Linked DNA regions of Homo sapiens: all the other regions are reported to be linked to region 3. Evidence: microRNA targets listed by miRTarBase, many of them from high-throughput screens and not tested one by one. Region 3 holds a microRNA gene; each other region holds the end of a gene's coding sequence.
What was found. The annotated mature microRNA hsa-miR-7978 reads UCUGGUGUAUAGCGUUGCUCA and lies in region 3 at 2,142-2,162, opposite strand. An mRNA with a match to its seed (bases 2 to 7 or 8) in the 3' UTR can be bound and repressed. Matches are read on the target gene's strand: a 7mer-m8 pairs with bases 2 to 8, a 7mer-A1 pairs with bases 2 to 7 and ends in A, and an 8mer does both.

Region 1 (3,231 bases), not on the chromosome of region 3:
CCAGCCTGGCCAACATGGCGAAACCCTGTCTCTACTAAAAACACAAAACTTAGCTGGGCGTGCTGGTGTGCGCCTGTAATCCCAGCTACCCTGGAGGCTGAGGCAGAAGAATCACTTGAGCCTGGGAGGCGGAGGTTGTAGTGAGCTGAGATAGAGCCATTGCACTCCAGCAGGGCGACAGAGCGAGACTCTGTCTCAAAAACTACTATCACAACAAAAACCAGTTTGACTCCATTTTCTAGGACATAAGGACATGCATAAAAAATAGTTTACTAATTTAGGGTTGGTGAGTGTGGTTAGAATTTTTAAAAAATTTTTCTATTTGGTTGTTTGAGCCCTACCCACTGTAGTAGCAGGAAACCCAGCCTTTCACTACTGTGGTCCCTGGTATCCTTCCCTTCTTCCTCCCTCCTCCCTTCTTTTTCCTTTCTCTCCTTCCATGGATTGACCAAGAGCCTTGAGCTTGCCTGGGTTCAAGTCCCACATTCTAGCTGTGTGTGACCCTAAGCTCGTTTTTGGGCTCCTCATCTGTAAAATAGGACCTCTCTTTTAGGACTGTTGTCCTAGAAGATTAATGAAATGATACATGTAAGAACTTAAGACAGTGCCTGCAACACAGCTATCTCTGGAAGTTGTTGTTATTATTATTACATAATGTTTTCACAGTTGATAATGGTTTGGCTCTCTGTCCCCACCCAAATCTCACCTCTAATTGTAATCCCCACATGTTGAGGGAGGGATCTGTAATTCCCATGTGCTGAGGGAGGGATCTGTAATTCCCATGTGCTGAGGGAGGGATCTGTAATTCCCGTGTGCTGAGGGAGGGATCTGTAATTCCCGTGTGCTGAGGGAGGGATCTGTAATTCCCGTGTGCTGCGGGAGGGATCTGTAATTCCCGTGTGCTGAGGGAGGGATCTGTAATTCCCGTGTGTTGAGGGAGGGATCTGTAATTCCCGTGTGTTGAGGGAGGGATCTGTAATTCCCGTGTGTTGAGGGAGGGATCTGTAATTCCCGTGTGTTGAGGGAGGGTGGAGATTGGATCATGGGGGCGATTCCCCCATGCTGTTCTCATGATAGTGAGTTCTCATGACCGCTGACAGTTTTAAAGTGTGGCACTTCCTCGTTTTTGCATGCCCTCTCTCTCCTGTCGCCTTGTGAAGAAGGTCCCTGCTTCCCCTTCCGCCACGACTGTAAGCTTCCTGAGGCCTCCCCAGCCATGCGGAACTGTGAGAGTCAATTAAACCTCTTTCCTTTATAAATTACCCAGTCTTGGGGATTTCTTTGTAGCAGTGTGAGAACAGACTAATACAATTGTTATCAGTTGAATTGTCTCCCCAAAATTCATATACTGAAGTCCTGACCCCTAGAACCTCAGAATGCAACTGTATTTGGAGATAGGGCCTTTAAAAAGGTAATTAAGTTAACATGAGGTCATTTGAGTAGACCCTAATCCAGTGTGACTGGTGTCTTCATATGAAGAAGAGATTAGGACACAGACATGCACAGAGGGACGACCATGTGAGGACGCAGGGAGAATGGCCTTATACAAGTCAAAGAGCCTCAGAAGGCTCTGCCCATGCCCTGGTCTCTGATTTCTATCCTTCAGAACTGTGAGGATATGTGCCTCTGTTGGTTAAGCCCGTCCCCCAACCCCGCTCTGTGGTACCTTGCTAGGGAACCCTTGCTGACAAACACAATATTATCACAGAGTAAAGAAGCGGCCAAACTGCATTTCAAACTGGTAGGATTTCCCCTCCTGCACACTCAATATGGTGGTTTCCAAATGATTTGAGGTCAGGAGTTCGAGACCAGCCTGGCCAACATAGTGAAACCCCATCTCCACTAAAAATACAAAAATTAGCTGGACGTGGTGGCAGGCACCTGTAATCTCAGCTACTCGGGAGGCTGAGGCAGGAGAATCGCTTGAACCCGGGAGGCAGAGGTTGCAGGGAGCCGAGATCGCACCATTGCACTCCAGCCTGGGCGACAAGAGTGAAACTCCATCTAGAAAAAACCCCAGAAAACATAAAAGAATTGAGAAGAATGAAATCCACACAATGAGATAAGTTTCATCGCGAGTTTTACTGAATGCATGTTTTACTTAGACATACCAGATATTACAAATAATATCATAAATGACAGTGTGTTTCAGTTGTAAACTCTAGAGTCTCATCATCGGGAGCACACAGCAGACAATGGTCAGGGAAACATCTCTATCCAGGTCCTCTGGGGATCTTCGTCTCCCTTTAGAACCTGGTGGCTTGTCACTCCGTGGTCCTCTCCTGGGCCCCACACCAGTGCACAAATGCCACACAGATTCCTGCAGGTACACGTGGAACTTGGGCTCATGATCAAAGAGAATTCTCAGCCTGTCTGCTGGTGTTCAAAGTTCAGACTTCAGATTACCAAGTTTTCATCAACTGTTATTTCCAGAACTTCAGCTATTTCTCTTTTTTCTTGCAAGAAGAGATTTCACAATCTACACAAATTTAGAGATGTGACTCTTAGATTCTGCAAAATTCTTAACTGCTGTCAGTTCTGGAAATCCTTGTGGCCTCAACAGAATTCTGGAGCTTTCTTACTTCATGCCCACGTACCTACATGTGGATTACGAAGACTTCTGTTATCTCAGGATGATTTACCTTTTCCCTAGAACATCAATAGCACAGTTTAAAACACTGTCTCAGCCTGGCATGGTGGCTCATGCCTGTAATCCCAGCACTTTGAGAGGCCAAGGTGGGTGGATCGCTTGAGCCCAGGAGTTTGAGACCAGCCTGGGCAGCATGGCAAAACCCCTTCTCTACCAAAAATATAAAAATTAGCCAGTCTTATAACCTGGTCTCAAAATAAGTAAATAGATAAAAATTTTAAAAAGTATTAAAAAAAATCGCTATCTCTACCAGCTCCCACCAGTTCCTAACAAAATCAATTTCACTTACTTCATCTTCCTATTTATTAATGCTCAACCTATTTGCTTAGAACTTTAGCATTTTCCATGCAACTTTTCATTTATGTCAAAGATTTAAAGTGATACAGGCAACAATAATTTTAGAGAAATCTCATTGCTTTATTACTACTAACAGTATTTAAAATTTTTAGGCTGAAGTTTAAAAATCCTTACTATTGATGGATTACTTTTTAAGTTAGGAGTTCCTTTATAGATACTGTGGTTTGAGGCACCAATTTCATGGAACTTTATGTGCTGAGTGGTTGTACGGGCTCACGTAGGAC
Region 2 (3,000 bases), not on the chromosome of region 3:
CTTTTTGTTTTGTTTTAGCATGAGTGCAAGTTTATTTAAAAAGGCTTTAGAACAGGAAAGAAAGGCAAGTATGCTTGGAAGAGACCCAAGGGGGTGATTTGAAGGACGAGTGCCTCAATTTGCTAAAATTTTCTTAAGGCTCTGTGTCTATATTCATGTGATTATTGGTCTATAGTTTTGTTTAATGTCATTGCCTGCTTTAGTGTCCTGTTAATGCTAACTTTCATATAGTCCAGAATTCTTTGAACCTTTGTCCTCTTGGAAGTTTGTATACAATTGGTATTACTTCTTCCTTTTTCATAAAAGTTCTTATATATCCTAGGAATGACCCTCAGCTGATGCCATCAAGAAAAAGGAATCTCAGTCCTACAACCACGAAGAACTTAAATATGCTAACAACTGAAATAAGCAAGAAACAGATCCTCCCTGAGACTCTAGAAAGGAACATAATCATGCCAACACTTTGATTTTAACCCAGTGAGACTTCTGTTATATTTGTGTTGTTTAAACCATAAGTTTGTGGTGATTTGTCAGGATAGCAATAAAAAGCTAATATGTCAACATTATTCTGTGAACATTTATTTATTTTCCAATGCAGTATTTCCTCAAATCATGTTGTACCTTTTCTGCCACAACTTGAAAACAGCCTCTTCTCTAAGGAGTTCTGGTTCCTTTTATTAAAAAATGATATAAACCAATAACTGGGTATTAAATGTGCTCAAAACTACTGGAATGCCATGGCTTGCTAGGCTCTCAGTAAAGATAGGGAATATGTACACATTTATCTATATATTGAATTATTTATTTGTAGTTAAACCTACAAATATTTCAGAAGTTGGATATTTAAAAAGATTCATAAGATTACAGTAGCATACTCACATAAGGCTTTTTTTTTTTTTTTTTTTTTTTTTTTTTTTTTTTTTTTTTTTTGAGACAGAGTCTGGCTTTGTGCCCCAGGCTGGAGTGCAGTGGCGCAATCTCGGCTCACTGCAAGCTCCGCCTCCCGGGCTCACACCATTCTCCTGCCTCAGCCTCCAGGATAGCTGGAACTACAGGCAGCCGCCACCACGCCCAGCTAATTTTTTGTATTTTTAGTTGAGAGGGAGTTTCACTGTGTTAGCCAGGATGGTCTCAATCTCCTGACCTCGTGATCCACCCGCCTTGGCCTCCCAAAGTGTTGGGATTACAGGCGTGAGCCACCGCACTCAGTCAAGGCTTTTATTTATAGGCAAAGATATGGTATAGTAAGAGGATGCAACACCAAATGCACAATGAATAAAATAACAAATGGATAAATTGGGCTCCATAAAATTAAGACAATCTGCTCTAGGAAAGATACTGTTAAGAACTGAAAACAAGGCCAAGCATGGTGGCTCATGCCTGTAATCCCAGCACTTTGGGAGGCTGAGGCAGGATGATCACTTGAGGCCAGGAGTTAGAGACTAGTCTGTGCAACATAGCACGACCTCATCTCTAAATTTTAAAAAAGAAAAGAAAACAAAAGCCATGGACCATGAGAAAATATTGACAATGCTTATATCAAATAAGGAATTTGTCTCCAGAAATATTAAGAACTTGTAACCAACCAAATGTTTTAAAAAACAGGCAAAAAATACATTTGACTAAAGAAGATATATGGGTGACAAGTAAACACATTAAAAAATGCTCAAAACTGAGTCATCGGAAAAATACAAATTAAGAACTACAATGAAATACTACTTCACACTTAGTAACATGGCTAAAATGAATGGCCTATGACTTCTACACATATAAACTGTCAGTAATGTGAAGAAATGGAAAATCTAATATATTCCAGGAGGAAATATGAAATGCTAACCATTTAGAACACAATTTGGCAAGTTCTTAAAATTTGAAACATTTGGATCAACTTACAGAATAACTGAATGAGGAGCTTTGCAGACCTGTTACACAGCCAAAAGGGTGAAAATTATAAAAACACAATTCAGTCTCTGGAAATGGTCATAAGGGTGTATGGGAAATAAATATTTATTAAAGAAGATCTAACATTCACAAGAACAGCAAAAGTGAGTCACATTTGAACCAAGACCACTCCTTTCCTCCCCCAACTCCAAACTCAGCGAGATCAAAACTCCATTCGACGGGTACAGCCAAGAATACAGGGCTCCCTCTCTCTGGAGCTCCAAGGCAGAGGGCTGTCTTCTCAGGAAGGACAATCTGTCAGGAATTCTCATCTTGCCTCCAGTGTGCATATTTAGATGAATGATGTTCAATTGCCAGCTCCCTCATAAAGGCCATCCTCAGAGTTTCTGTTTTAAGTGAGGTCATATTGATTCAGAGACAGTACATAACCTGTCACCCTAAGGCCTTTCTCCAGTGTAAACTTTCTGGTGTTGAATAGGGTTAGGCCTTTGGCTGAAACCTTTTTCCATATTCACTACATTGTCCACATTGTAAACTGTCCAGTGTTGAATGAGACTGGAGGTGTGGCTAACGGATTTCCATCTGTTACCTTCAAGATTTTTTCCACTGTGAACTTTCTGGTGTTGAATGAGGTTGAAACGCTGGCTAAAGGATTTCACACAATCACTGCATTTCTCCAGTGTGAATCCTTCGATGTTTAAAAAGACTGGAGTTGTGGCGAAAAAACTTCCCACATTCCCTGCACTCATAAGGCTTTGCTCCAGTGTGAACCCTCTGATGTTTAACAAGGCTGGAATTCTCTCTAAACAATCTCCCACATTCATTGCACTTAAAAGGCTTTTCTCCAATGTGAACTTTTCGATGTTGCATGAGGGTTGAGCTTTGGCTAAAAAATTTCCCACATTCCCTGCACTCATAAGGCTTTGCTCCAGTGTGAACCCTCTGATGTCTAACTAGGGTGGAATTCTCTCTAAAGAATCTCCCACATTCATTGCACTTAAAAGGCTTTTCTCCAGTGTGAACTTTTTGATGTTGCATGAGGCTTGAGCATTGGGTAAAAAATTTCCCACAGTCGCTGCACTTGTAAGGCCTTTCTCC
Region 3 (3,231 bases):
TCTCTACATCAGTGAGATCAACGACTTTAGATTCTGCATATGAGTGAGATTATGCAGTATTTGTCTTTCTGTGTTAGGTTTATTTCAGTTAACATAATGTCTTCCAGGTTCATTTATATTGTCACAAATGATATAGGATTTTATTCTTTATGGCTAAATAGTATTCCATTGTGTGTGTGTGTGTGTGTGTGTGTGTGTGTGTGTGTGTGTATGTGTGTCTATGTGTGTTTGTATACCATATATATGCCACATTTTATTTATTCATTTATTTATTCATTTTATTTATCCATTTATTTATTCATTTTATTTATCCATAAATGTTAATGAACATTTAGGTTGATTCCATAACTTGACTATTGTGAATAGTGTTGCAACAAACATGAGAGTGAGACATCTCCTTGACATACTGATTTCATTTCCTTTGGATATATATCCAGCAGTGGGATTGCTGGATCATAAGGTAGTCCCAGTTTTAATTTTTTGAGAAATCTCCATATTGTTTTTCATAATGGCTAAACTAATTTACATTCTCACCAACAGTATTTAAGGGTACCCTTTTCTCCACATCCTTCCCAACACTTGTTATCTTTTGTATTTTTGATAGAAGTCATTCTAACTGGAGTAAGGTAATACCTCATTGTGTTTTGATTTGCATTTCCATGATGATTAGTGATGTTAAATATTTTTTTCATATACCTCTTTGTCATTTGAATGTCTTTTTTTGAGAAATGTCTAGTCAGGTCTTTCGCCTATTTTTAAACCAGATTATTTGTGTTTTTGTGATTGAGTTGTTTGAGTTCTCTTTTCTCTCCAACTTCATACCTCATCCCTGGGCAACCATTAATCTAGTTTCTGTCTCTATAGATTTCTGTATTCTGGACATTCATATAAATGGAATCATAAAAGATGTGGTCTTTTGTGTTTGGTTTCTTTCACTTAGTATAATATTTTTCAAGGTTCAACAATGTTGTAGCATGTATTCGTACTTTATTCCTTTTTATTGCCAGTGTTTGCTAGTATTTTATTGAGAAATTTTGTGTCTACATTTATAAGAGATACTGCTCTCTAGTTTTCTTTTCTTGTGCTGTTTTTACCTGGTTTTGGCATAAGGATAATGCTAGCTCCTAGAATGGGTTTGGAAATATTCCTTTGTCTTCTCTTTTTTGAAAGAGTTTGTAAAGAATTATTACTAATTCTTCTTTAAATGTTTAATCGAATTCACCAGCAAAGCCATCTGGAATTGGGCTTTAAGTTGTGGGAAATGTTTTCGTTTGAAATTAAATCATTTTACTTGTAATAAGTTTATTCAGATTTTCTATTTCACTTTGAATCAATGGTGGTTGTTTCTGGTTGTCTTTCTAGAAATTTGTCATGTCATCTAAGCTACCTAATTTGTTGGCACACAAATGTTCACAGCATTCCTATATGATCCTTTTTTATTTCTGTAAGGTTGGTAGTGATGTCTCCACTCCCATTTTTGATTTTATCAACTTATACCTTCTTTCCTTTCTTCTTCAGTCTAGCTAAAATTTTGTCAATTTTAATTTTTTTCTTAAAGAACCAATTAGAATTGATTGATTTTTTGTTTTTCTATTTCCTATTTTATTTATTTCTGTTCTAATATTTACTATTTTCTTCCTTCTGATTGTTTTGCATTTAGTTTGCTCTTCTTTTTATAGTTTTTTAAGTTGTCAGGTTAGATTATTGACTTGAGATGTTATTATATAGACATTTGTAGTTATAAATTTCTCTGTAAGTACTGTGTAAGCTACATTCTATAATTTTTCGTATGTTTTATCTTCATTTTCATTTCTCTCATAGCATTTTCTAATCTTTCTGGCATTTTTCAGACCATTGATTACTCAAGAGTGTGTTGCTTAATTTCCACATAATTGTGAATTTCTAAATTTCCTTCTGTTACTGATTTCTCATTTCATTCCACTGTGGTTGGAGACCATACTTTGTATAATTTTTTAAAAATTTATTCAGACTTGTTTTATGCCCTAGCATATAATCTATCCTGGGGAATGTTCCATATGTACTTGAAAAGAGTATATATTCTGCTGTTTTTTTCTATCACGCCTAGTTGGTGTCTATCACATCTATTTGGTGTATACTGTTGTTCAAAGAAATAGAGGACTTGAGCAACGCTATACACCAGATAGACCTGACAGACATTTACACAATGTTCCATACCAAAGCAGCAGAAATACTTGACTAGTTGTTCAGAATTTATTTTTAATTTTAATAAATATATTTCAATGCATCCATCTCACTTACTCATTTCTCATAAAAGTAATATGAGTAACACCCCTCTACGACCATGGAAAAAGTGGCTATTTTTGATTCCTCTGATTCAATAGATCACTGTAGAACATGAAGTCACCAAATATTCTTGTGTAAGAGCTCTCTGAAAATTAATCTTGACAGGATTGTTGGGGGATTACTGGCACAGGTGTAGACTGCCAGGCTGTCTCTCCTGCTTTGCACATAGCCTTTTTTGAGTATAAATAGAAGAAGAACATTACTGCTTTCTGCTATTTCAGGAAAGAACACACCCATTTATTTAGTCATTCATAAGCACTGAGTTGAATGCCTACTGTAAGACAAGCCCTAAGAGTACTTATAGTAAACATACACTTGATTCTACTATGACATAAAATCCAGAATCTGATGGCCAATCCTACTGACAGCAGCTAAGAGTAAGAACTTGACATGCTCAGCAGGTACATAAGATATACTTTCCAGATCAATGCTGGATTATGAATGCTTTCTGTCCACAGGATTCTCTACATGCTCCTTTCCTTACCTCCATCAATTTCTGATGTGGGCAAGAAGGATTGTTGTACCCAATAACTGAGTCTACAAACTCAACTCTCTTCATTATGTCTAGGGCAATGCCCAGTGTCCTAAGACCACCAGTTGCAACCTCCTACAATAACCCCATTACATTGGCTAATTTTGTTGATATATCTGAATACATACATATCTGACTATAAAACATGACTCTGAAACTTACTAGATATTGGACATTGACTTGTTCGCCTAACTTCTCCAAGCTTTCTCAGTCTTTTAATTTGGAGACCAGGCATGAAAAATATTTATTTCACAGAATTGTAGTGAGGGTTAAATATTTAAGATAAGGTACCTGACACATAGTGGGCACTCTCCAAGAGTGGTAGCTTAAAACATGCAAATAACAATTCTTGGCTCCTTATTCTGTGCTCTGGA
Region 4 (3,231 bases), not on the chromosome of region 3:
GAAACAAGGTTTGGGGATTCGCAGAGCTTATAGTCTAGTAGGAGTAGAAAAGCAATAAACAAGTGGTCATGTAGGTAAATAAGCAAACACATACATAAACAAAAAATAATTTTGGAGGCCGGGCGTGGTGGCTCACGCCTGTAAATCCCAGCACTTTGGGAGGCCGAGGCGGGCTGATCACCTGAAGTCAGGAATTTGACACCAGCCTGTCCAACATGGTGAAACTATGTCTCTACCAAAAAAAAAAAAAAATACAAAAATTAGCCAGGCGTAGTGATGGGCACCTGTGGTCCTAGCTATTCAGGATGCTGAGGCAAGAGGATTGCTTGAACCTGGGAGGCAGAGGTTACAGTGAGCCGAGATTGCGCCTGGGTGACAGAGCGAGACTCCGTCTCAAAAAAAGAAAAAAAAAAAAAAAAAGAAACAGAGTCAGAAAAGCAGGCACACCCAATGAGAGATCCAGAAAGGACGCTAAAGAGTGGGCTCAGAAGAGATGGGGCCCCTGGAGAGACACACATGGGGTTCCCCACTCTCAGGCCTCCCTCCATGACCCCTTCTCTTCCCCCAGGCCCAGGATCCCTGGAGAACTCAGCCCCGAGGCCCCCAGGGCTCCTGGCCCTCCTCTCCGCCCTGGGCTGGCTGTGGTGGAGAATGTAGGCGCAACCCAGTGGAGCTCACCTCCCCCTGCAGGGGGCCTCAGGCCAAGAGTGAGAGAAACGGGGGAGCAAGAGCCGTGGGTCTCGTGGGGGCAGAAGAGCTCTCGGCCACCAAGGAAGAAGAGAGAGGAGAAGAGGAGGAGGCAGAGGAAGAAAGATCTTCAGAGAACCCATCACTGTGAGGGATAACGCAAAATTATGCATCTTTCTACAGCCATTCTCGCCACCCGTTCACGTTTCCGATTGTGACCCACTCCCGCCACCCCATACCCCTCTCTCTTAGCTCAGGCTGTCAACTGGCTTGTGTGGGTGTGGGTGTGTGAGTGTGAGCCTGCATGCATGTGTAGGTGTCTGTGTCTCTGTTTGTGTGTGTGTGGGGGGGTGGGCTGGGGGAAGGGACTCAGCCGTCCTCCCGCCCCCAAAACCCCCATGTCCACTGTCCCCAACCCTATTGCCTCTCACCTCTGGCTGGAGGTAGGTATGAGGCTCTGCAGTGGAAGCTGTGAAGAGAGGCTTACCAGGCTCCCTGCTTCCCCAATATATGCACGCACACTACCCCTCCCCCTGTCGAAAGGGCAACTCCTGGCAGGTTGGGAGTGGGGAGGGGCATCGCACTCACCTGTCAAGCTGTCATTCAGCCTTTGTGAGTAAGTGGGGGACCTCCATCTAGGCTCTGGGCTTCCCTGCTGTCAACCACCAGCTTCCTGTAGCCAGAGGCCCCATCGCTGGCTCAGTGGCCTGAGACCTTCCCACTTTTCCTGTCCCTCCACACCCTGGATTTTCTGGCCCCCTCCTGGGCCAATCGGTGCTTCCATCCAACTGTCAGACTGGTGGCAGGAGTCACCTGTCTGTTTCAGTGCTTTGCCCTACCCTTGCCACCACTCCCCTTGGCCTTGATTTCCCCACCTGCGGCACCAGCCAGCTGCCCTTGGGGCCTTTGCAGCTGGCCCACAGGTGTGAGCTTGCTGGTCTATCACTTCCTGGCCTCTCCACCAACTGTACCTCCCAAAGGCTACCTGACCGCCCTCACAGACACTCAGACGCACCACACACACATACACACACACAGACACACACACACACACACACACACACACCAGCGACTGTGACCAGCAATAGCCCCCTGGCTCCAGCTGTCCGGTAGCTGGTGACTAGCTGTATTTCCCCCTGGGTAGGCATCTGGTGTCAGGAAGGGACGCTGAGAGGCCGCAGCCTCAGCTCTGACTGTAGGAACACTCCACCCTGGTACACCACACCACACAAAGTGGGGGACAGAGAGGCATCACACAGACATCCTGAGCCCAGACAAAGATGCCATGTCACCAACTCCGACTCCCAGGAGACCCTCTATATAAACACCCACCCCAAACCACACCACCCAGAGTCTGGTGGAGAAAAGGAGAGGGCAAGGCGCAGTGACTGTACCTCAGACGGGGGCATGGGCCCCATCCCACATTGTCTTCCATTCCCAGGGTCCAGGGGATGGGGTGGGACAGGGGAGGGATGCTAGGGAGGGGGTGGGGGGCCCTGGGGGCCATGTGTTCCAATTCATGGGGAGTGTTGAGACCACCACACCAATAAACGCCTTTTTCCAAAGTCTGCCTGCAGGTGTCAATGTCATTAAGGATTAGAGTTAATGAAGGGCAAAGGGTAGCAGTCAATTGGTGGTGCCTCTCCAGCATCATTCCTACCGCCTACTTTCTCACTGGTAGACTTGGAATGGACTCATTACAGAGATGCCCTGTGATTGGCCGAAGACACCCAGCATAGCCCATTTCCCACCGTGATTGGCTCAGAGATGGGCACATGACCCAGTAAGGCTAATGAGAAAGTGAATGGATTCCCAAGAAGAGATGCTTTTCTGCTGGATATTGTGGCTCCGTGATGTGAAGTCAACATCTGTAGGGTTGCTTTTCTCCATCACATGGAGAGATCTTGGCTCTGTGGGGATAGCAATGGTGGGGAGGACAGCATATGGAGCCTGAGAAGGATAGGAACACTGTGAAGGGCAGAGTGGAAACCTTAGAGAAACTGAGTCCATGATTATATATCATTTGAGCAGCTGGATCAAAACTTAACTGATGCCCATTTTCACTTATATAAGCAATAAAGTCCCCTGTATATTTAAACCAATTTGCATTGGATTTTCTATCTCTAGTAATAAAAAAGAGAATGAAAACCATAATAGATACAGAAGAGACATAGAAGGCCCAGAACCCCAACCCTCACCTTTCCAAAAGGATCCAGGGGTTCTATTTTCCAATGGCCTTTTCTACCCCCAATCATTAACCAGAAATTCTCTCACATGCTTTCCTTCCCTGAGACAGATGCTGGTTGCCCACATTTGAGTTGTTTGGTTCCCCTTTCTTCTTCGCTGGCAGATCCACGTGTTATGATACAGGCTAGATATCTGGTTTCCTAGCCTCCTTTGCAGCTATGTGGCCAGTTTGGGCCAAAGAGACATAAATGGAAATTTGCTTGTAGGTTTCCAGGAAAGCTTCCCTCCCACCCCATGAGAGGGAAGAAGGCAGTGATAGAGGGAGGTAGAGGGTGGGGAAGATGTATAGGGAGGAAG

Region 1: miRTarBase lists C7orf33 as a target of hsa-miR-7978. Seed matches in the 3' UTR shown: 7mer-m8 at 2,377-2,383.
Region 2: miRTarBase lists ZNF419 as a target of hsa-miR-7978. Seed matches in the 3' UTR shown: 8mer at 2,519-2,526 and 8mer at 2,366-2,373.
Region 4: the mRNA of IGLON5 is a reported target of hsa-miR-7978. Seed matches in the 3' UTR shown: 7mer-m8 at 1,750-1,756.

The regions. Positions count from the first base shown.
Region 1 is chr7:148,614,693-148,617,923 of GRCh38, reverse strand. It overlaps C7orf33 (chromosome 7 open reading frame 33), which reads right to left. Exons shown (of 3, transcript NM_145304.4): 3 at 2,064-2,597. The coding sequence ends at 2,523. Among named protein-coding and RNA genes, the nearest start is that of C7orf33, 26 kb to the right of the region's middle.
Region 2 is chr19:57,493,656-57,496,655 of GRCh38, reverse strand. It overlaps ZNF419 (zinc finger protein 419), which reads right to left. Exons shown (of 5, transcript NM_024691.4): 5 at 558-3,000. The coding sequence ends at 2,566. Among named protein-coding and RNA genes, the nearest start is that of ZNF773, 4.8 kb to the left of the region's middle.
Region 3 is chr4:21,462,597-21,465,827 of GRCh38, forward strand. It overlaps MIR7978 (microRNA 7978), which reads right to left and starts at 2,162; the gene lies at 2,104-2,162. All of the region lies in intron 1 of KCNIP4 (potassium voltage-gated channel interacting protein 4), which reads right to left.
Region 4 is chr19:51,328,103-51,331,333 of GRCh38, forward strand. IGLON5 (IgLON family member 5) reads left to right here. Exons shown (of 8, transcript NM_001101372.3): 8 at 569-2,789. The coding sequence ends at 657. Among named protein-coding and RNA genes, the nearest start is that of VSIG10L-AS1, 10 kb to the right of the region's middle. RefSeq lists an enhancer at 156-1,078.